Regions from separate parts of the Homo sapiens genome. Here all the other regions are linked to region 1. Evidence: fine-mapped expression QTL. A gene starts in region 1. Each other region holds a variant in brackets. All regions are shown on one strand. Distances are between the middles of the regions.

Region 1 (5,000 bases):
AAAGCTGTGGTTTTTAACCAGCTTAAAATCACATTTAAAGCTACATGGAGAGCTGATGAAACTCCTTAATGCCCACACTGAATCCCAAGCCAAATGAACCAGAGTTTTGCGGGAAAAGATCCAGGTATCAGGATTTTTCAAGCTCTCTGGTGATTCTGACATACAGTCAAGTAGAGAATCAAAGTTCTACAATGAATCCAGAATGCACTGGTTCTCAGAACTGCAATACTCTGAGGTGAACCAGGGATAGAAGAATTGGAGATACCCAGAAGGGGGAAAAATGTCCTGGACAATTCTGTTTCTTTTTCTTTCTTTTTTTTTGAGACAGTTTTGCACTGTCACCCAGGCTGGAGCTTAGTGGCACCATCACCATCATAGCTCACTGCAGCCTCAAACTTTGGACTGAAGCAATCTTTCTGCCTTGGCATCCCAAGCACCTGGGACTACTGGTGTACATCACCACAACCGCACTTTTAATTTTTTTTTTTTTTTTTTTAATAAAGAAGGGACCTTGCTATGTTGCCCGGGGTGGTCTTGAACTCCTGGATTCCAGCCATCCTCCCACCTCAGCGCCCAAAAGTGCTGGGATTACAGGCCTGGACAATTCTTTATAAGTGGTATTATGGAAAAGAGATGTGGCACAAGGAAATCTGCGAAGGAACCCACGATGTTCTGTCCAAGTTGTTAACAACTAGACGTTTTAAAAGGCATTTATAAAAATTAATAGTCTTACCTTTTGATTATCCTTCCTTCTCTATGGTGTGTTACAAAAATTCCACATCTTACAAGCCCATGAAAATAAATTCCCATGAGAGTTTGAAAACTTTTTGCAGAATAATGTCCCAATTTTAGTTACTGGTGGCCAATATTTACCAGCTTGAGAGGTGGTCTTTTATTACCCTTACTGGCTGGTAACATTTATGACACAGAAACTTGCAATAGGTTGGATGGAATCCTTTCAATATGAAAAGTAATTATAAACAGGTGAAGGTAGAATGGCAACTTTCGTGTTGGCTTTGTTAATGTTTTGCACGTAATCCCTCTGTCAAAGTGTCTTAAACAATAAAACAACAAGCAAAAATCTCACACATACACACACACACATGCACACACACATTTTGTTTTCAAAGACCACGGTGTAAAATGAAGATACACACACGTTATCCTGTAAGTTGTGGATCTTTGGTTGGCTAGTTGGTTATGATGTTTTTTCCCCTACTCAGCTCTAAAAAAACATCCTCGGCAAGGTGAGGTGGCTCACGCCTGTAATCCCAGCACTTTGGGAGGCCGAAGCGGGCGGATCACCTCAGGTTGGGAGTTCGAGACCAGACTGACCAATGTGGAGAAGCCCAGTCTCTACTAAAAATATAAAATTAGCCCGGCGTGGTGGCGCATGCCTGTAATCCCAGCTACTCTGGAGGCTGACAGAGGAGAATCGCTTGAACCCGGGAGGAGGAGGTTGCGGTGAGCCGAGATCACGCCATTGCACTCCAGCCTGGGCAACAAGAGTAAAACTCCGTCTCAAAAAAAAAAAAAAAAAAAAAAAAAAAATCCTCAAAGCCAACCCACCTGCCAAGAGGAGGGAAGGAGGTGATACTCGAGCCTTACTCTCGAATCAAGAAAAGGGAGTAGGCCTTGGGGAAATGTGGCTTTCAAAATTCATGCCATATTTGCCCAAGCCAAGTCGCTAGCTGGTCCCTGCAACCACCCACACACCCCACTGCCTTCTTCCTAGGAAAAACCAGACTCTGCCCTGTTACCTACGCGCCCGACTCGCGGGGCGCTGTTCGTTCAAGACTCGCCCCAAAGAGCGCAGGAACGCGAGCCGCAGCAGTTTCAGGGTTCAGCTTAGGTGACACAAACGTAGCTAATGGGAGGCCGCCGCCGACTCTCCCACCCGCCCTTACCAGCATCCCCGCGCCTCTCCCCGCCACCCTTGCCCGGCGCGCCGGCGATGCCCTCTGCCCGCGGGGACCCGAGCCTCGCGCGCCCTCCGCCCTCCCTACCCTGGACCCTGTACCCATCACACCTGGGGCACTGCCGTCCGCCGAGCTTGGGCGCGCGGCAGCGAGAAGGCACTGGAGGAGGAGCAGCCGGGGCGTACGCGCCCTGGCCTCCAGCAGGCCGGGGAGGGCGCGCATGGCGCCAGAGGGTCCGCCTGGGTCCTCGTGGAGACTGCTCCCTCAGCTCGCCGCCGCGGGTGTCCAGAGTCCCTGCGCACACTCGCAGGTGGCCCGGCGCTCGCAGCCAGTGCCGCGGGTAGGACGCTGAAGAAAAGGCGGAATGGGAGGGGCCCGGCCGCCTTGCCCCACTCCCCCGAGACGCTCTTACCGCGCCCGGCCCTCCATCAGTTATGCAGCCCTCAGCCGGCTGCTGGCGTTCCCGGATGTGCGGTGGCGGTGCTACTTCCCGGCTGCAGCCTCTCCGGCCTCCGCCCTCTCGGCTCTAGCAGGTCGGGAGAGAGCTTGGGCAGGTGATGTCTAGCCAATCTCGTGGGGAGAGGTCGAAACTCTGCCTACAGACTGGCCTTTGCACTTCACCTGAGGCAGGTTTCACTAATTTGCTTTGATGGGACAGATGAGAAACACTTTTCTCCTCCCGGACCCCGGACATCTTTGGGCTTTCTTACGAGGGAGGCTTATTTTTGCGCAGGTGTAAGGTTTTATCCAGCTGCCAGACAACTTGTGTTAATCTTTCTTTGCTTTGCCTACCAATCACACACATTCTCTCTTCTAGTCTCTGAAGGCTTAACTGATTTTCTCCGGATGAAGGTTTTAGAGTCCCAAGGCCCCATACCGTGTCTGATTTTACTTTATTTTTGTTTGTTAAGCCTAACAGCTTCTGAGGAGCCACCTAGAGCTCAAGAAGCAAAAGCTACTGAGAGTAGATACTATGTAAACTGCACAAGACATTGACCTTTGTTAAATCCGAACACTCTTTAAGATAATGCTCTTACCCACAAGGCTGTAGCTTGGAATATTCAGTGCTCTGAACCAAATTAAATAAATTAGTGCTTTATCCGGGAGGGGAGGAGAAATCTATATTGTAACATTGAAACACATTGATTTGATTTCTCTCCAGGATGTTATAACGCATTAAAAGATATTTTTAAAATTTTTCACGAGCTTTGTTTCCTCTCCCTTTATTTTTTTGAAGTTCAGCTTTCACATTCGTAAATTCAAAATATATCGGCGTTAAAAAAAAAAGGATTGGAAATAACATGAGACAAATTTTGAAAATTGAGCTATTTAACAAAACCTGTGTTTATTCCAGGCAGGAATGGTTAATTTGTAATTGGTACGTATTACTAAAACACGTCTGTTTCTGGTTTAGTATTATATGCACAAAACTTTGGAAACAGAATGTAGATTCTTCAAATTGGCAGTGAGATAATATGAATAATACAATTCATTCAACAATATTATCTACCAGGTGCCAATCTACCATTGTGTTCAAAAGAGGCTAGATAGGCACACATGCACAAATGCACGCATGCACACATGTACACACACACACACACAAATTAGACAACTGTTTATCTGTGAATGACAAATCTCAGAAAAGCCTCTTCTCAGAAAATTATGGTCAAAATTATTAAAATCTTCTGAATGAAACTTTAAAAGATGCCTTCAAGGACTAAATCTTATACACTGTTGACCCTCTGAGGGCATTGACTGGGCTTGCTAAACCCAAATTGCCTAATCAATGGCTGCTACATCACACCTCTTTCTTTCAACCCTGCATCTGGTCTCAGGACTAACTGCACACATTTCCCTATAATTAGGTAGAGTGTCAACAGTAAGCACTTCTCACCTCAAACTAAACTCTGACTGACTTTTCCCAGTTAGTCTCATAAAATCCTTAGACACAAATTCACCCTTCTTAAAGAAACATTTTTTTCAGTTGAATCAGCCTATTTATGACCAGAAAAACTTACTTACCCAAGTTGATGCTGATCCCCACTGTTGCTTTTGCTGTTGGAACAAAAGAGTTGAGAAAGAAATATAATTCTCATTTTGCTAAGCATTTTGAAAGTCTTTTCATCACTGTTCCTGTTCTATATTTAGATATTTGATATTTCCAGCCTTATGTACATTCCACTTTTTCAAATGCTCCATATCCTTTAAAACAAGCTTATTGACTGCCTTCCCTATATAACTTTTTCTATCCCTGATTCACCTTTCAAAATTCATCTCAGAGTATTGCAGTTCTGAGAACCTCTGCACTCCTGGGGAATTCTCACTCTGTCGCTCAGGCTGGAGGGCAGAGGCACATTCACGGCTCACTGCAGCCTTGACCTTCTGGGCTCAAGACGAAGAAATTGGGGATTGGCTTAAGTAATTGCCCAAGTAATTGCTTAAGTAATTGCCCAAGTAATTACACATACTTAGTTAAGCAGCAGAGCAGGAAATTTGGCATTGGTCCATCCAGTGCCTGTTTTCCTAAACACAGTGCTTAAACACAATATCCAGTTGTCTCTCCGAGCTAATTGGAAATGTCTATGAAAGTTCAGAACTACTGACAGCATAGCCTATGCATCTAAATGTCTGATTTGCACTGAATGACATGCTGACACAGTTTGAGTCCTGGAATAAAATTAGGTACAGGGACTCTTTTAAGGTTTTTTGATTAAATAAGACATATAATATATCTTTGTAAAGGACATATCAGTGGGAGTATTTAAATATCATTATTATTACTATTACATGACACAAATTGGAGAAATGGGTCATGTTTATCTTTTGAAAAATGTTTGCAGTAGAATCATTTAAAATGATCCTTTAACTTCCAGAGGACGTGGCTTTTGCATTCCCTTTATGAACCCCCTTCCCTACTAACCTCTCACCCCAAACACAGCAGCTTTCTAGTAATAAATATTTTTGAAGCAAATACTATTCAAGCACCCACATATGTCTGACATTGTTAGTCCATATCTCAGTAGAACATGCTGGCAGTTTTTACCTTTAAGGACATTTAAAGGGGTTCCCACTGGACAAATC
Region 2 (5,000 bases), 290 kb before region 1:
ATTTTTTTTTTTTTTTGAGACGGAGTCTCACTCTGTCTCCCAGTCTGGAGCATGGGGGAGCGATCTGGGCTCACTGCAAGCTCCACCTCCTAGGTTCATGGCATTCTCCTGCCTCAGCCTCCCGAGTAGCTGGTATACAGGCACCCGCCACCAAGCCCTGTAAATTTTTTGTATATTTAGTAGTGACAGGGTTTTACCATGTTAGCCAGGATGGTCTCAATCTCCTGACCTCGTGATACACCCGCCTTTGTCTCCCAAGTGCTGGGATTACAGGCGTGAGCCACTGTGCCTGGCCAAAATTCTTAAAGAAAATAATTTTCAACCCAGAATTTCACATCCAGCCAAACTAAGCTTCATAATGAAGGATAAATAAAATATTTTACAGACAAGCAAATGCTGAGAGATTTTGTCACCACCAGGCCTGCCCTAGAAGAGCTCCTGAAGGAAGCACTAAACATGGAAAGCAACAACCAGTACCAGCTGCTTCAAAATCACACCAAAATGTAAAGACCATGGAGACTAGGAAGAAACTGCATCAACTAACGAGCAAAATAACTAGCTAACATCAGAATGACAGGATCAAATTCACACATAACAATATTAACTTTAAATGTAAATGGACTAAGTGCTCCAATTAAAAGACACAGACTGGCAAATTGGATAAAGAGACAAGACCCATCAGTGTGCTGTATTCAGGGAACCCATCTCATGTGCAGAGACACACATAGGCTCAAAATAAAAGGATGGAGGAAGATCTACCAAGCAAATGGAAAACAAAAAAGGCAGGGGTTGCAATCCTAGTCTGTGATAAAACAGACTTTAAGCCAATAAAGATCCAAAGAGACCAAGAAGGCCATTACATAATGGTAAAGGGATCAATTCAACAAGAAGAGCTAACTATCCTAAATATATATGCAACCAATACAGCAGCACCCAGATTCATGAAGCAAGTTATGAGTGAACTACAAGAGACTTAGACTCCCACACATTAATAATGGGAGACTTTAACACCCCACTGTCAACAATAGACAGATCATTGAGACAGAAAGTTAACAGGGATATCCAGGAATTGAACTTGGCTCTGCACCAAGTGACCTAATGGACATCTAAAGGACTCTCCACCACAAATCAACAGAATATACTTTTCCTTCAGCACCACACCACACTTATTCCAAAATTGACCACATACTTGGAAGTAAAGCTCTCCTCAGCAAATGTAAAAGAACAGAAATTATAACAAATTGTCTCTCAGACCACGGTGCAAACAAACTAGAACTCAGGATTAAGAAACTCACTCAAAACTGCTCAACTAAATGGAAACTGAGCAACCTGCGCCTGAATGACTACTGGGTACATAGCGAAATGAAGGCAGAAATAAAGATGTTCTTTGAAACCAACGAGAACAAAGACACAACATACCAGAATCTCTGGGACACATTCAAAGCAGTGTGTAGATGGAAATTTACAACACTAAATGCCCACAAGAGAAAGCAGGAAAGATCCAAAATAGACACCCTAACAACACAATTAAAAGAACTAAAAAAGCAAGAATAAATACATTCAAAAGCTAGCAGAAGGCAAGACATAACTAAAATCAGAGCAGAACTGAAGGAAATAGAGACACAAAAAGCCATTCAAAAAATTAATGAATTGAGGAGCTGGTTTTTTGAAAGGATCAACAAAATTGACAGACCACTAACAAGACTAATAAAGAAGAAAAGAGAGAAGAATCACATAGATGTAATAAAAAATGATAAAGGGGATATCACCACCGATCCCACAGAAATACAAGCTACCATCAGAGAATACTACAAATATTTCTATGCAAATAAACTAGAAAATCTAGAAGAAATTGACAAATTCCTCGACACATACACCCTCCCAACACTAAACCAGGAAGAAGTTGAATCTCTGAATACACCAATAACAGGCTCTGAAATTGTGGCGATAATCAATAGCTTACCAACCAAAAAGAGTGCAGGACCAGATGGATTCACAGCCGAATTCTACCAGAGGTAAAAGGAGGAACTGGTACCATTCCTTCTGAAACTATTCCAATCAATAGAAAAAGAGGGAATCCTCCCTAACTCATTTTATGAGGCCAGCATCATCCTGATACCAAAGCCAGGCAGAGACACAACCAAAAAAGAGAACTTTAGACCAATATAGTTGAAGAATATTGAGGCAAAAATTCTCAGTAAAAAACTGGCAAAACAAATCCAGTAGCACATCAAAAAGCTTATCCATCCTGATCAAGTAGGCTTCATCCCTGGGATGCAAGACTGGTTCAATATATGCAAATCAATAAATGTAATCCAGCATATAAACAGAACCAAAGACAAAAACCACATGATTATCTCAGTAGATGCAGAAAAGGCCTTTGACAAATTCAACAACCCTTCATGCTAAAAGCTCTCAATAAATTAGGTATTGATGGGACGTATCTCAAAATAATAAGAGTGATCTATGACAAACCCACAGCCAATATCATACTGAATGGACAAAAACTGCAAGCATTCCCTTTGAAAACTGGCACAAGAGAGGGATGCCCTCTCTCACCACTCCTATTCAACATAGTGTTGGAAGTTCTGGCCAGGGCAATTAGGCAGGAGAAGGAAATAAAGGGTATGCAACTATGAAAAGAGGAAGTCAAATTGTCCGTGTTTGCAGACGACGTGATTGTATATCTAGAAAACCCCATTGTCTCAGCCCAAAATCTCCTTAAGCTGATAAGCAACTTCAGCAAAGTCTCAGGATACAAAATCAATGTACAAAAATCACAAGCATTCTTATACACCAATAACAGACAAACAGAGAGC[C/G]AAATCATGAGTGAACTCCCATTCATAATTGCTTCAAAGAGAGTTAAATACCTAGGAATCCAACTTACAAGGGACGTGAAGGACCACTTCAAGGAGAATTACAAACCACTGCTCAATGAAATAAAAGAAGATACAAAGAAATGGAAGAAAGGGTAGAAAGAATAAATACCATGAAAAAAGGCATACTGCCCAAGGTAATTTATAGATTCAAAGCCATCCCCATCAAACTACCAATGACTGTGTTCACAGAATTGGAAAAAACTACTTTAAAGTTCATGTGCAACCAAAAAAGAGCCCGCATCCCCAAATCAATCCTAAGCCAAAAGAACAAAGCTGGAGGCATCACACTACCTGACTTCAAACTATACTACAAGGCTACAGTAACCAAAACAGCATGGTACTGCTATCAAAACAGAGATATAGATCAATGGAAGAGAACAGAGCCCTCAGAAAAAACACCACATAGCTACAACTATCTGATCTTTGACAAACCTGAGAAAAACAAGCAATGGGGAAAGGATTCCCTATTTAATAAATGGTGCTGGGAAAACTGGCTAGCCATATGTAGAAAGCTGAAACTGGATCCCTTCCTTACACATTATACAAAAAATAATTCAAGATGTTTTAAAGACTTAAACGTTAGACTTAAAACCATAAAAACCCTATTAGAAAACCTAGGCATTATCATTCAGGACATAGGCATGGGCAAGGACTTCATGTCTAAAACACCAAATGCAATGGCAATAAAAGCCAAAATTGACAAATGAGATCTAATTAAACTAAAGATCTTCTGCACAGCAAAAGAAACTACCATCAGAGTCAACAGGCAACCTACAAATTGGGAGAAAGTTTTTGCAACCTACTCATCTGACAAAGGGCTAATATCCAGAATCTACAATGAACTCAAACAAATTTATAAGAAAAAAACAAACAACCCCATCAAAACGTGGGTGAAGGACATGAACAGATACTTCTCAAAAGAAGACATTTACGCAGCTAAAAAACACATGAAAAAAAATGCTCACCATCGCTGGCCATCACAGCAAATCAAAAACACAATGAGACACAATCTCACACCAGTTAGAATGGCAATCATTAAAAAGTCAGGAAACAACAGGTGCTGGAGAGCGTGTGGAGAAACAGGAACACTTTTACACTGTTGGTGGGACTGTAAACTAGTTCAACCATTGTGGAAGTCAGTGTGGTGATTCCTCAGGGATCTGGAACTAGAAATACCATTTGACCCAGCCATCCCATTACTGGGTATATATCCAAAGGACTATAAATCATGCTGCTATAAAGACACATGCACACGTATGTTTATTGCGGCACTATTCACAATAGCAAAGACTTGCATCCCAACCAAAAGTCCAAAATGATAGACTGGATTAAGAAAATATAGCACATATACACCATGGAATACTATGTAGCCATAAGAAATGATGAGTTCATGTCCTTTGTAGGGACATGGATAAAATTGGAAATCATCATTCTCAGTAAACTATCACAAGGATGAAAAACCAAACACCACATGTTCTCACTCATAGATGGGAATTGAAGAATGAGAACAGATGGACACAGGAAGGGGAGCATCACACTCTGGGGACTGTTGAGGGGTGGGGAGAGAGGGGAGGGATAGCATTAGGAAATACACCTAATGCTAAATGACGAGTTAATGAGTGCAGTACGCCAGCATGGCACATGTATACACATGTAACTAACCTGCACATTATGCATATGTACCATAAAACTTGAACTATAATAATAATAATAAAAGAGAAAGTTTCAACACTGTGATATAAATGCACCCATAATAATGAAGTTTCTCATGATGCTTCTGTGTAGTTTTTATTTGAAGATATGTCCATTTCCACGATAGGCCTCAAATCCCTCCAAATATCCACTTGCAGATTATAAAAAAGAGTGTTTCAAAACTGCTGAATCAAAACAAAGTTTCAACTGTGAGGTGAATGCACACATCAAAAAGAAGTTTCACAGAATGCTTCTGTCTAGTTTTTATGTGAAGATATTTCCTTTTCCACCATATTCCTCAAAGCACTGCAAATATCCACTTGGAAATTCTACAAAAAGAGTGTTTCAAAACTGCTCAATGAAAAGAAAGATTCAAGTCTTTGAGATGAATGCTCACATCACAAAGAAGTTTCTCAGAATGCTTCTGTC
Region 3 (5,000 bases), 210 kb before region 1:
ATAGGCCCTAAAGGGCTCCAAATATCCACTTGCAGATTCTACAAAAATAAGGTTTCCAAAATCCTCAATGAAAACAAAGGTTCAACTCTTTGAGATGAATGCACACATCCCAAAGAAGATTCTCAGAATGCCTCTGTCTGGTTTTTACGTGAAGATATTTTCTTTTCCACCATAGGCCACAAAGTGCTCCAAATATCCACTTGCAGATTCTACAAAAAGAGTGTTTCAAAACTGCTCAATTAAAACAAAGGTTTAACTCTCTGAGATGAATGCACACATCAGAAGGAAGTTTGTCAGAATGCTTCTATCTAGTTTTTATGTGAAGATACTTCCTATTCCACCATAGGCTTCAAAGCACACCAAATAGCCACTCGCAGAATCTACAAATAGAGTGATTCAAAACTGCTCAATCAAAAGAAAGGTTCAACTCTGTGAGTTGAACTCACACATCAGAAAGCATTTTGTCAGAATGCTTCTGTCTAGCTTTTATGCGAAGATATTTCCTTTTCCATCATAGGCCTCAAAGCCCTCCAAATATCCACTTTCAGATCCTACAAAAAGAGTGTTTCCAAACTGCTCAATGAAAACCAAGGTTCAACTCTGTGAGATGAATGTGCACATCACAAAGAAGTTTCTCATAATGATTCTGTCTAGTTTTTATGTGAAGATATTTTCTTTTCCACCATAGGCCTCAAAGTGCTCCAATTATCCACTCACAGATTCTACAAAAGAGTGTTTCCAAACTGCTCAATCAAAAGAAAGTTTCAACTCTGTGAGATGAATGCACACATCACAAAGAAGTTTCTCAGTATGCTTCTGTGTAGTTTTTATGTGAATATATTTCCTTTCCCACCATAGGCCGTAAAGGGTTCTAAATATACACTTGCAGAATCTACAATAAGAGAGTTTCAACACTACTCAATCAAAACAGCTTCAACTCTGTGAGTGGAAAGCACACATCACAAGAAGTATGTCAGAATGCTTCTGCCTAGTTTTTACATGAAGATATTTCCTTTTCTACCAAAGGCCTCAACGTGCTCCAAATATCCACTTACAGATTCTACAAAAACAGTGTTTCAAAACTGCTCAATGAAAACAAAGGTTCAAGTCTGTGAGTTGAATGCACACATCAGAAAGAAGTTTGTCAGAATGCTTCTGTCTAGTTTTTATGTGAAGATATTTCCACTTCCACCATAGGCCTCAAAGCGCTCCAAATATCCACTTGCAGAATCTACAAAAAGAGTGATTCAAAACTGCTCAATCAAAAGAAAGTTTCAACTCTGTGAGTTTAATGCAAACTTCACAAAGAAGTTTCTCAGAATGCTTCTGTGTAGTTTTTATGTGAAGATATTTCCTTTTCCATCATAGGACACAAAGCGCTCCAAATATCCACTTGCAGATTCTACAAAAAGAGTGTTCCAAAACTGCTAATTCAAAAGAAAGTTTCAATTCTGTGAAACGAATGCACACATCACACAGAAGGTTATCAGAATCCTTCCATGTTGTTTTTATTTGAAGATATTTAATTTTCCACCATAGGCCAAAAATGGCTCCAAATAACCACATGCAGATTACACAAAATGTTAGATTCCTAACTGCTCAATCAAAATATAGGGATTTTGGAGCCAAGATGGCTGAATAGCAACAGCTCCAGTCTACAGCTCCCAGCATGACTGACACAGAAGACAGGTGATTTCTGCATTTCCATCTGAAATACTGGGTTCATCTCACTAGGGAGTGCCAGACAGTGGGTGCAGATCAGTGGGTGCATGCACCAAGTGTGAGTCAAAGCAGTGCAAGGCATTGCCTCACACAGGAAGTGCAAGGGGTCAGGGAGTTCTCTTTCTTAGTCAAAGAAAGGGGTGACAGATGGCACCTGGAAAATTGGGTCATGCCCACCTGAATACTGCACTTTTGCCACGGGCTTAAAAAATGGCACACCAGGAGATTATATC[C/T]TACACATGGCTCAGAGGGTCCTGTGCCCATGGAGTCTCACAGATTGCTAGCACAGCAGTCTGAGATCTAACTGCAAGGTGGCAACGAGGCTGGGGGAGGGGCACCCACCATTGCCCAGGCTTGCTTAGGTAAACAAAGCAGCTGGGAAGCTCGAACTAGGTGAAGCCCACCACAGCTCAAGGAGTCCTGCCTGCCTCTGTAGGCTCCACTTCTGGGTGCATGGCACAGAAAAACAAAAAGACAGTAGTAACCTCTGCAGACTTAAATGCCCCAGTCTGACAGCTTTGAAGAGAGCAGTGTTTCTCCCAGCACAGACCTGGAGATCTGAGAACGAGCAGACTGCCTCCTCAAGTGGGTCCGTGACCCCTGAAAACCAAGCAGCCTAATTGGGAGGCAACCCCCTGTAGGGGCAGACTGACACCTCACACGGCCGGGTACTCCTCTGAGACAAAACTTCCAGAGGAACAATCAGATGGCAGCATTCGTGGTTCAAGAAAAACCACTGTTCTGCAGACACCGCTGCTGATACCCAGGCAAACAGGGTCTGGAGTGGACGTCTAGCAAACTCCAACAGACCTGCAGCTGAGGGTCCAGTCTGTTAGAATGAAAACTAACAAACACAAAGGACATCCACACAAAAAATCCCTCTGTACATAACCATCATCAAAGACCAAAAGAAGATAAAACCACGAAGATGGGGAAAAAACAGAGCAGAACAACTGGAAACTCTAAAAAGTGGAGTGCCTCTCCTCCTAAAAAGGAGCACAGATCCTCACCAGCAAAAGAACAAAGCTGGATGGAGAATGACTTTGATGAGTTGAGAGAAGAAGGCTTCAGACAATCAAACTACTCCGAGCTGCAGGAGGAAATTCAAACCAAAGGCAAAGAAGTTGAAAACTTTGAAAAACATGAGACGAATGTATAACTAGAATAACCAATACACAGAAGTGCTTAAAGGAGCTGATGGAGCAGAAAGCCAAGGCTTGAGATCTATGTGAAGAATGAAGAAGCCTCAGGAGCTGATGCGATCAACTGGAAGAAAGGGTATCAGTGATTGAAGATGAAATAAATGAAATGAAGTGAGAAGGAAAGTTTAGAGAAAAAAGAATAAAAAGAAACGAATAAAGCCTCCAAGAAATATGGGACTATGAGAGAAGACCAAATCTACGTCTGATTGGTGTACCTGAAAGTGATGGGCAGAATGGAACCGAGCTGGAAAACACTCTGCAGGATATTATCCAGGAGAACTTCCCCAATCTAGCAAGGCAGGACAACATTCAGATTCAGGAAATACAGAGAATGCCACAAAGATGCTCCTCGAGAAGAGCAACTCCAAGAAACGTAATTGTCAGATTTACCAAAGTTGAAAAGAAGGAAAAAATGTTAAGGCAGCCAGAGAGAAAGATCAGGTTACCCACAAAGGGAAGCCCATCAGACTAACAGCAGATCTCTTGGCAGAAACTCTACAAGCCAGAAGAGAGTGGAGGCTAATATTCAACATTCTTAAAGAAAAGAATTTTCAAGCCAGAATTTCATATCCAGCCAAAGTAAGCTTCATAAGTGAAGGAGAAATAAAATACTTTACAGACAAGCAAATGCTGAGAGATTTTGTCACCACCAGGACTGCCCTAAAAGAGCTCCTGAAGGAAGCACTAAACATGGAAAGGAACAAACGGTACCAGCCGCTGCTAAATCATGCCAAAATGTAAAGACCATGGAGACTAGGAAGAAACTACATCAACTAACAAGCAAAATAACCAGCTAACATCATAATGACAGAATCAAATTCACACATAACAATATTAACTTTAAATGTAAATGGATTAAATGCTCCAATTAAAAGACACAGACTGACAAATTGGATAAAGAGTCAAGACCCATCAGTGTGCTGTATTCAGGAAACCCATCTCATGTGCAGAGACACACATAGGCTCAAAATAAAAGGATGGAGGAAGACTTACCAAGAAAATGGAAAACAAAAAAAGGCAGGGGTTGCAATCCTAGTCTCTGATAAAACAGACTTTAAACCAACAAAGATCAAAAGAGACAAAGAAGGCCACTACATTATGGTAAAGGGATCAATTCAACAAGAAGAGCTAAATATCTTAAATGTATATGAACCCAATACAGGAGCACCCAGATTCATAAAGCAAGTCCTGAGTAACATACAAGGAGACTTAGACTTCCACACAATAATAATGGGAGACTTTAACACCCCACTGTCAACATTAGACAGATCAACGAGACAGAAAGTTAACAAGGATACACAGGAATTGAACTCAGCTCTGCACCAAGCGGACCTAATAGACATCTACAGAACTCTCCACCCCAAATCAACAGAATATACATTTTTTTCAGCACCACACCACACCTATTCCAAAATTGACCACATACTTGGAAATAAAGCTCTCCTCAGCAAATGTAAAGAACAGAAATTATAACAAACTGTCTCTCAGACTACAGTGCAATCAAACTAGAACTCAGGATTAAGAAACTCACTCAAAACCCCTCAACTACATGGAAACTGAACAACCTGCTCCTGAATGACTACTGGGTACATAATGAAATGAAGGCAGAAATAAAGATGTTCTTTGAAACCAATGAGAACAAAGACACAACATGCCAGAATCTCTGGGACACATTCAAAGCAGTGTGAAGAGGGAAAATTTTAGCACTAAATGCCCACAAGAGAAAGTAGGAAATATCCAAGATTGACACACTTCTGAGAAGCATTCAAGAAGTTTCTGAGAATGCTTCTGTGTAGTTTTTAAGTGAAGATATATCCCTTTCCACTATAGGCCTCAAATCCCTCCAAATATCCATTTGCAGATAGTACAAAAAAAGTGATTCCAAACTGCTTAGTAAAATAAGGTTGAACTCTGTCAGATGAATGGACACATCACAAAGAAATTTCTCAGAATTCTTCTGTCTAGTTTTTAGGTGAAGATATTTCCTTTTCAGCTATAGGACAGAAAACGCTACAAATATCCATTTGCAGATACTACAAAAAGAGTGTTTCCAAGGAGCTTAATAAAAAGAAAGTT
Region 4 (5,000 bases), 190 kb after region 1:
CTATCTGCCTCATGTAAGGTGCAGGTGACATAATTAGGTAATCAAGCAAAAGATCACATTTTTTAATAAGAAAGAGACACTGGCTATTATTTTGAGTGGCAAAACAGGTTATTCAGTCCCAGTTTAAAATGGAAATGACAGAGACCAAGATCAAGATTTCTAATTTGAGATGTGCCTGTGATGCAATTACATTTGCTGAATGAAACTGCTTCAGTAATTAGATGCAGGTTTCTTCTCTCTTCTTTTTGAGATGTAGAGAGGACACAATAGGCTCATGGAACTTAAAGAACTCGACACCAGCTAACAAAACATGCTATCCAGCTTCTTTCATTTCACCATATTGCTTTCTTGAAAACATAGTACAGTGCCAGTTTAGCATTGAAAAAAATCAGTTCTCCTAATTCTAAAAAGAGGAGACAGCCAGGCGTGGTGGGTCACTAAAAATACAAAAAATTAGCTGGGCATGGTGGTGCATGCCTGTAATCCCAGCTACTTGGGAGGCTGAGGCAAAAGAATCACTTAAACCCGGGAGGCGAAGGTTGCAGTGTGCTCAGATAGCACCATTGCACTCCCGCCTGGGCAACAAGAGTGAAACTCCATCTCAAGAAAAAAAAAAGAAACAGAGAGAGAGAGACAAACTGTAATTTCATTTCAGAAGTTTTATAGGGTACTATTTCCAGTTCTTTTTTTCTTACTCCATTGAAGTGTAATTAGCAGTATGTGAAAATTTCCACTTTATCCTCAATCAGTAGCCTCTCCTTCCAATTAGCATATTTTTTCTATTAATTTTGTAAAGTGGGATTCTTGTTTTACACATACCCCTGGAAAGTATACTTAAACTGTGAGACCCTGGGATTTTATATTTCCAAATAGAAGATACCATCCTCTTGTATCACAAAATGTACTTAAGATGGTTTGGATTATATTTAAATATTCTTGAATGAAATAGACTTAGTGATTGAAGCCAATTATTATATTTTTCCACACCAAAATAAATGCAATAGGAAAAGATGACAGTACTATCTAGTATTCCTGCTTCAATATTGCACAAATTAGAAACATACATATTCTGTTATGTTATAGGGTCTAGGGCTTTCGGAGGACAAGGCTGCAGTCAGCTGAGATCGTGCCACTGCACTCCAGCCTGGGCGACAGAGTGAGACCCTTTCTCAATAATAGTAATAAAAGTAAAAAGAAATATAATATTTAATCAATATATGCACACACATGGGTTTATCATGACACACATGACATTTGTGTACAGTGAAAAAAAATGAGTAAATCTAGAAACCTGTATTGCCTCAATAGCTAGCTGAGTACTTCAATATGCATGTTTATTTCAACAATTTTGTGTTAAGCTTCAGTGGTAAGTAAGCAGAGTACACTGACCATAATGAATACTTCTTTTGATGAGGGTTATCACTACACAATTAAAATATGATATAGTTGGCTGGGCACGTTGGCTCACACCTATAATCCCAGCACTTTGGGAGGCCGAGGCAGGTGGATCTCCTGAGGATGGGTGTTCCAGACCAGCCTGACCAACATGGAGAAACCCCGTCTCTATTAAAAATACAAAATTAACCAGGCGTGGTGGCACATGCCTGTAATCCCAGCTACTCAGGACACTGAGGCAAGAGAATCACTTGAGCCCGGGAGGCAGAGGTTGTGGTGAGCTGAAATAGTGCCATTGCACTCCAACCTGGGCAACAAGAGCAAAACTCCATCTCAAAAAAAATAATAATAAATATATATATATTATATATAATAAATATATCATATATATGATATAGTTTAGAGTTAAATACTGACTGCTCTCGGGAACTTTGAGGTATTCTGAGGGATATAAATAACATGAAGAGAATAGCACATTGGCTTGCAGCAGATTAGAGTCTGTTACCTGCGTGAATACTTGTTTTTCATGAACTATGAGGATCCCCTTAGCTTTTGAACCACTTCTACTTGTGTTTAAATTTACCCTTTAATTTTGGGGTTTGCTGCCCTTCTGTTCCGCTTGAGTCTGGCTTTTCCTACTCTGACTCACTTTGATTCTTGACCTCTGAATCTTATTCCTATTTTACAATAAACACATGTGGCACATATGCCAATGAGTAGAGTGGAAGAGAGAAAAATTGCCAAGGAACTGTGTTTAATTTTGTTCCTTTCGCAAACCAGATACCATAACAGAAAAATTTTAGGAATATGTGCATGTTCAGTAGCCTTCAATGCAATTACAGTCATTATTACAAAGTGTTGGATAATCAATATTTTTTAAAGATTCACTAGTCCCTTCTCATAATTTTAGAACTTTGGGAAGTAACAATACAAATGTATTTTTAGCTGTGTCCTTTAATCTTTTACTGTTTCCTCTATGTGTGGTGTTTGGTTTGTGTGTGTGTGATAATTATTATAAAGATCAGAGGCTAACAGAGGTGTTTATCACAAACTTTTAAGATTTTTATTTTTATTTTTTAATTCTTTTTAAGAGACAGAGTCTCACTGCGTCACTCAGGCTGGATGCAGTGGTGCCAACTTAGCTCACTGCAACCTCCGCCTTCAAGGTTCAAGCGATTCTGCTGCCTCAGCCTCCCAAGTAGCTGGGACTACCGGAGGGCGCCACCATGCCCCACTAATTTTTGTATTTTTAGTAGAGACGGGGTTTCATCATGTTGGCCAAGCTGGTCTTGAACTCCTGACCTCATGATCCGCCCGCCTCAGCTTCCCTAAGTTCTGGGATTACAAGC[G/A]TGAGCCACCGCGCTCAGCTGCATGACCTTTTAACTTGCCTCATACACTCAATATACTCAAGGTATACCTTCCAAAGTGAAAAATTATGGCACGTTGCAGTCCTGACCACTAATTGAGAACTTTGATGCATTGGATTTTGGAGACCTCATTTTATCACCTGGTCCTTTTACTTTATGACTTGTCATGCTGCCATCTTTTGATGGGATTGAGATCAAGATAATAATTCCCAACTGGTCAGGAATATTGTGCCCCTTTGTTTTTATATCCAGATGCAATAGAGCCTCTGACACACCACTACTATGGTTCTTAGGATTTGGAACAAAATGCTTCTTTCTTTGACAAAATAAATGTTTTCTTTAAAGAATTCTTGATTGATCCTGGACCATTGTAGAAACTGAAGTCTTACCAATGCAAAAAAATATGACAACATGAGCTGCTTATCATGAAATAAGTGTTTTCCAGTTAACTATCCTGCTTCATCCGCAGGTAGGAATAATAGAATCTATACCTATGTCTTCATGGGAATTTCTCTATGGCCAGTTGATTAGTGAGGGAAAAATTGAGCCTGATTTACAGAAGTCGCTGTACAACATCACAGCAACAGCCAAAAGTAGATTGCTTAGGCATTATAACCTACTTGAATGCAATTTTAAAAGAAATTCAGCCTATGTAATCAGTTGTCCACGATGTCTAGAAGGAGAGATATTACTGATTTATATGTGGCAGCTAAAAATTTGTCTAGGTAATTAGGGACTTGGGGCCAGGACTGGTGGCTCACACTTGTAATCCCAGAACTTTGGGAGGACAAGACAGGCGGATTGTCTGAGGTCAGGAGTTCGAAACCAGCCTGGCTAACATGGTGAAACTCCATCTTTACTAAAAATACAAAAATTAGCCAGGTGTGGTGGTGTGTGCCTGTAGTCCCAGCTACTCGAGAGGCTGAGGCGGGAGAATCTCTTGAATCCAGGAGGCAGAAGTTGCAGTGAGCCAAGATTGCACCACTGCACTCCAGCCTGGGCAACAAAGCGAAACTCCGTCTCAAAAAAAAAAAAAAAAAGATAATTAGGGACTTGGAAGGACAAAGATTGAAGGATTGGTGACAATGAGTTTTGGGGAAAAATACGTAGATGAACTACAGAAAATGAGCCAGAGTGTAAGAATATTTGTGCTTAATATGAATACTCACCAAACTATCATCAGGAAGGTTATCAAATAAATATGAAGGTATGAAACAACTTCTTTCACCAGGCACTACATTGCTTGCTCAGAAGGCTAATAAACAGCAACATTGGTGGTAGCAGTAGAGAATACATATAGGTTTAGCAACATGTTGGACTTTACCACTGTCCCTTACCAAAGCCTATTTAGCTGTCAAGACTATTAGGTGTCCAACACACAAGCAACAAGGACCAAGGCTAAGCACAAAATAACATATCCTGGGTGAAAAAAACAGTCACCTTTTGTCAGACTTGTTGATTTTACTGGAGCTCCTCTATGATAAAGGCAACAAGGAATGTTGTAAATGGAATCTAGCTTTATATCCTTGAATTACATTTGCTTGACCTGACATCATGTTTCTCTGATCACCACTCTCCGTGGGTACATTGAATGCTTTATACATACTGCCATAATATCCTGTTCTACATCCTTCTATTCAAAGAACTTGTTGTATAACAAATGAGTAGATATTCACTGCACTCACCTGGTCCACCATTTATCCTATCACTAACCAAAATTATTATTATTATAGAATGGCGAATATTTTATTAAAGACTCAATCACAGTGCCAGCTGGAGACAATGGCTTATAAGGTTGTACTCATGCCAGAGGATGTGGTGGTGTATCCTCTGAACTAGTAACTAAGTATAAGCTTGTCTGGTGTCTCCCATATAAAAAATACAACAATCTTTGATCTTTGTTATGAATGTTGAAGTGACTCCTTTTGTCATTACATCTAATGATCCACTCCAAATATTTGTCTCTTGTCTCTGAGATTCTAGGTTTTTGCAGAATTAGTACCCAAGGGGAGAGTCTCAACAGTATTTCATTTTACGATCCATCCTTTGTTAGAGGATGAAAGACTTCTAACTGGCCTTTTAGGTTGCCTGAGACCTTTAGACAAACAGTCAAAAATTTAAAATTTAAAATGTGGCACACTGTTGCATGGGGTAGTAAATCTTGACCTTAAAACTGGTATTTGTAAGAAAAACAGAAAGAATTCAGGGATCCCCTTTGATGGCTCTTAATTCTATACA
Region 5 (5,000 bases), 150 kb after region 1:
TATTTATATAAAAACTCAGTTTCTTTCTTATATATAAACATTATTAGTAGTCTAAAAATGTCATTCTCAATAAAAAGGATGAGTGAACTTGAGGACTAGAGAATCAGGTAGTCACCATCAGAGAACTGGTTTAACAAACAGAAGGGGCCTACCCAGATACAGAGAAGTCAGGCAGGGCTGTGGTGTGAAAATGTTAGAGAAGCTTGATGGGAGGCCTAATATAGTTTGTCTTTACACCTGTATATTTTGCTTCTTGCATCTGCTTGAATGCCCTCTGTCATTTATTATAACTAGATTTATTGTTCCAATAGGTTTGTACTACAGTCAGAACAAACAAATCACTGGATCCAGCAGAAACCTTAGATATATGACATAACAGAGATTTGCAGAAAGATTTGTCCCATTGCCTTCTCGAATTTCTCTTATCATCAGTCCATCTAGCTGGAGCTCTCTGAAGGTCATCAGAGGTCAGTATAATTTTAATAAGATTTTAACTGAAGGATAGCCTTGATGTTCAGTGACCTTCAGACATGTTTGTTTATAATTGAGAAGCCACTCCCCCTGTTGAATGATAACCTCTTCCATGAATTACCAAACCAATGCTGCTCACATTTTGATTAACCATTGATTCCCATAAATCCAGCGTCCCCCAACACTGATTATCTAAATAACCTGAATTATTTGCATTGCCTTATCAATTCCATCTCATTTCCTGTCTTGGTGGTTTTGCTCACACTGCTTCTATGTGGAATGTCCATATGTACCCACCCGAGTTTCCACTTCATCATTCCATCATCTGTAGTCCACTATCCATCATCAGGACTAATGTGAGCTGACTTTCCTCCAAAAAGCTTTCCCTGAACTTATCCTAAAATAACATTTTTCTCTGCTAACTTACCATTTGTCATATGTTCGTATACAGCTTCTCTAACTGTCATGAAATGAAATAAATGGGAGGAAGATGAAACTTGAAAAGAAATCTGCTCCTTAAGGCAGGCCCTGGGGGAATAGGCCTGGCTGGAGGTAATGTAAGGTCTAGATGGTGTTTTTAGAATCTGAAGACTACAACACCAAACACAACAAGTATAAGCCTAGGCAAGCTGTCAGTGCAAGGCCTAAAATTAGGTATTTCAACAAGTGGATGAATCAATTTGGGGAATTGTATTAGTAAACAGAGGAAGCCTGTCCAGTAAAAGGGAGGGTAAGCAGGGATGCAGTTTAAAACTATTGAGGAATAATGGCTAAGAAATAGCAAAATTAACACATGGCCTAAAATATTAAGAAATTAAGCCTGTTATTGAATTACTGACCAGGCTAGTATATAGGAGCATTAACAACACAAAAACAGATTAGGTCACGATTAGCAGTGGGGGTGAAATAATCTTCAGGGCTGAAATACTGAGCTAGAAATATTTAAATCCTCCTTGCAGATGAAAAATATAGAGGACAATTTGTTGGTTCAGCATGAATTTCTAGTCTTTTGTTAAGAAGCTAGAACAGAAATACTCTCTTTCATTGCAAGTGAACATTGAGGCAGTAAACTCCAAATATAGCTGCAGGTACCATCTCCTGCTGATTTGTGTGTATAGAGCATGAAAGAAAGGCTCAGAAACAAAAGCATGTCGGAAAAATAAGCAGGAGGCATTTACTTGCAAAGAAATGTGAGGAAGTCAGTCTTCAAAAGAACTGGCCCAAAAAATTTAAAAAATAGAATTTTTTAAAACAAACAGTATTGTGAAGACTATAGGCTTTATATTAGTCTCTTCATGGCAGAAAACAGCAATTTTATCATGGTTATTGTATTCAAAAAGTTCATGACATATCTTCAGACAATAAATAGCATTGTAAAGTCAAGGATAAAGTAATTTTCATTAAGGAGTTAGCAACTCTCAGGAAATGCTCAAGGTTTTATTCATTTGGAGGACTGCAAGTAAACAGAGAGACTCTTTTATTGTTTCTTTATGTCAGAGTGCAGAGGTTTTTTTCTCTGTTTCTTCAGCAGTGGGACATGATGTACGGGCTGACAATGGTGTCAGGCCCAGATGTCACTTTGGTTTTTACACTTCATCTTGTGGTCATGTTTCCTCCTCTACAGGACATGTTTGTCTACCTACATTTGCTGAACAATGTTCCTAATCAGTACTATTGATTTTACATTTTACTTTGAGCCATTTTATTTGCACAGATCTAAGAAGAAGTGTTGATTATATTAATTTAATGACCTCCTAGTATTTTTTTGACGAAACAATAAACTAAGGCTTACAAGTTTATGTCTATCTATAGATTTATAAAGCCCTTGTGGTTTAAATTTACTTTTACATGTTTAACAGCTCAGTTTAGAGCAGACCAAACCAGTCAGCTCACCTCTACCTGATTTCACCTGCAGTATTTATAATGCAAATGTATCCTTTTTAATAAAAGATATCCAGATGTCTTGATGTCCCTGCTCTGCCAAGAAAGGACATTCTTTTTAACCTCCAAGCCTGAGATTGCATAGTCCATACAGCATGTACCAGACTGGTTTCCTAGAAGGATGTTATAGGCATCACTTCTGCGTGAAAAACATAGAAATTATTCTTATTACTGGATTTGTCTTGTCTAATTTAATTGAATTTGTAGCACAGCTATAAATTTTTTATTAAAAAATTAATTCTTCCTGGCCAGGCAAGGTGGCTCACGCCTGTAATCCCAGCACTTTGAAAGGCTAAGGCGGGCAGATCACCTGAGGTCAGGAGTTTAAGACCAGCCTGGCCAACATGGTGAAACCCCGTCTCTATAAAAATACAAAAATTAGCCTAGCATGATGGTGGGTGCTTGTAATCCCAGCTACCCAGGAGGCTGATGTGGGAAAAGTGCTTGAGCCCAAGACTGGAAGTTTGCAGTGAGCTGAGATCATGCCATTGCACTCCAGCCTGGGCAAAAGAGCAAGACTCCATC[T/TA]AAAAAAAAAAAAAGATTTTTCTAATTAGTTATATATTCAGGTAGAAGGGAGGACAAATTCTTATTGAACCAATACAAATAACTACATAGTCACAAAAAGTAAATGTTTTTATTAAAGAAACTTTGTGTAAGAATTAACCAATATTGCTAATTAAGAGTATGTTAATAGACAAAACCAAATATTGTATGTCACAATTCTTTACAAAATAATTATTTGTATGTTTTTCTTGGCAATTTATTAGCTTTGTTTTTATATTAAGAATTTCTACAAGGTATTTTTTTCCTCAACACTAAGAATTCAGAGTGTTTTATTTAGTTTTTACAAATTCAATAATTTGTAAATTTAATTGGAGGTTAAAGATAGATTAAGAAGAAAGAAAATGGGTTTCTCTCATGTTCATTAAAGTAGAAAATTAAACTAACCTCAATTAAATCGCTTTATTGAGGTCCTTTAATCCTAAATAACAACCTCTTGTCATGCTGGTCTTGAGTTAAGCAGTCTGCTTTCATGAATTCATCTGCTTCTACATTGTGAGTGTCTTGGAAATCCTGACTCATTTACTTGGTATAGTTGGAATATTGTTTGTGGGGACAAGGTCAGCCTATTCTTGGAGGCCTATATCCATGAGTCAATTTCCTGTGGTATCAACAGTATCAACAGTGTCTGCTACGGTTTTTACTGGAGCTCTTTTGATATTTCTTCCAGATGACTTAAATTCTGATTGGCGCTTTGTAGAAAGGCTTTTAGGTATGCTTAAAGGGAAAGAAGGGCTGGGCACAGTGGCTCATGTCTGTAATCCCAACACTTTAGGAGGCTGAGGCAGGTGGATCACTTGAGGTCCGGAGTTTGAGACCAGCCTGGACAACATGGTGAAACCCTGTCTCTACTGAAAATAGAAAAATTAGCCATGCGTGGGGGTGGGCACCTGAATATAGCTACTCAGGAGGCTGAGGTAGGAGAACAGCTTGAACCCGACAGGCAGAGTTTGCGGTGAGCTGAGATCACACCACTGCACTCTAGCCTGGGCAACAGAGAGAGATTCCATCTAAAAAAAAAAAAAAAAGCAGCGGGGATAGGGGGAGGAGATGTTGTTGATAATAAAACTGTAAAGTTTGGTTAATTTTTTGTCATAGCAAACAACATCACAATGGGGGATAGTGGCATTCTCTGTTGAGGCATAATACATACTCATTTAATGAAATTTTAATCAGTGATTACCATAAAAGACAGAACACATTAAGAACAATTAGTGCATCCTGATACCTCTCCAGGGCCTTTAATTTTCCCCACAAAGCAGATATTATTATTTGTCACCAACTGATGTTTACTTCTTTTTTTTAATTATTGTACTTTAAGTTTTAGGGTACATGTGCACAACGTGCAGGCTTGTTACATGTGAATACATGTGCCATGTTGGTGTGCTGCACCTATTAACTTGTCATTTGCATTAGGTATATCTCCTAACGCTATCCCTCCCCCCTCCCCCCACCCCACAACAGCCCCCGGTGTGTGATGTTCCCTTTCCTGTGCCCATGGGTTCTCATTGTTCAATTCCCACCTATGAGTGAGAACATGCGGTGTTTGGTTTTTTGTCCTTGCAATAGTTTCCTGAGAATGATGGTTTCCAGCTTCATCCATGTCCCTACAAAGGACGTGAACTCATCATTTTTTATGGCTGTATAGTATTCCATGGTTTATATGTGCCACATTTTCTTAATCCAGTCTATCATTGATGGACATTTGGGTTGGTTCCAAGTCTTTGCTATTGGGAATAGTGCCACAATAAACGTACGGGTGCACGTCTCTTTATAGCAGCATGATTTATAATCCTTTGGGTACATACCGAGTAATGAGATGGCTGGGTCAAATGGTATTTCTAGTTCTAGATCCCTGAGGAATCACCACACCAACTTCCACAATGGTTGAACTAGTTTACAGTCCCACCAACAGTGTAAAAGTGTTCCTATTTCTCCACATCCTCTCCAGCACCTGTTGTTTCCTGACTTTTTAATGATCACCATCCTAACTGGTGTGAGATGGTATCTCATCGTGGTTTTGATTT

Alleles and levels. Positions count from the first base shown, and alleles are read on the strand shown. Sizes are in standard deviations (SD) of each study's normalised expression. Not every link is listed here.
With allele A in place of G in region 4, the expression in tibial artery of the gene that starts at base 2,278 in region 1 is lower (small effect, 0.31 SD a copy in GTEx).

Evidence for each region. PIP is the estimated chance that this variant, and not a neighbour inherited with it, causes the effect. A credible set is the group of variants that fine-mapping cannot tell apart.
Region 2: its variant is the best candidate, but not a certain one, in a credible set for the expression of EMB in whole blood (TOPMed, PIP 0.57).
Region 3: its variant is the best candidate, but not a certain one, in a credible set for the expression of EMB in whole blood (INTERVAL, PIP 0.84).
Region 4: its variant is the best candidate, but not a certain one, in a credible set for the expression of EMB in tibial artery (GTEx, PIP 0.53).
Region 5: its variant is the best candidate, but not a certain one, in a credible set for the expression of EMB in non-classical monocytes (Schmiedel 2018, PIP 0.62).

The regions. Positions count from the first base shown.
Region 1 is chr5:50,439,011-50,444,010 of GRCh38, forward strand. It overlaps EMB (embigin), which reads right to left and starts at 2,278. Exons shown (of 9, transcript NM_198449.3): 1 at 2,030-2,278. The coding sequence starts at 2,141. RefSeq lists silencers at 1,822-2,011, 2,092-2,221.
Region 2 is chr5:50,147,291-50,152,290 of GRCh38, forward strand. No RefSeq gene overlaps it. Among named protein-coding and RNA genes, the nearest start is that of EMB, 290 kb to the right of the region's middle. The variant C/G (reference allele first, on the strand shown) is at 2,820.
Region 3 is chr5:50,228,486-50,233,485 of GRCh38, forward strand. No RefSeq gene overlaps it. Among named protein-coding and RNA genes, the nearest start is that of EMB, 210 kb to the right of the region's middle. The variant C/T (reference allele first, on the strand shown) is at 1,956.
Region 4 is chr5:50,627,622-50,632,621 of GRCh38, forward strand. No RefSeq gene overlaps it. Among named protein-coding and RNA genes, the nearest start is that of PARP8, 37 kb to the right of the region's middle. The variant G/A (reference allele first, on the strand shown) is at 2,745.
Region 5 is chr5:50,591,841-50,596,840 of GRCh38, forward strand. No RefSeq gene overlaps it. Among named protein-coding and RNA genes, the nearest start is that of PARP8, 72 kb to the right of the region's middle. The variant T/TA (reference allele first, on the strand shown) is at 2,938.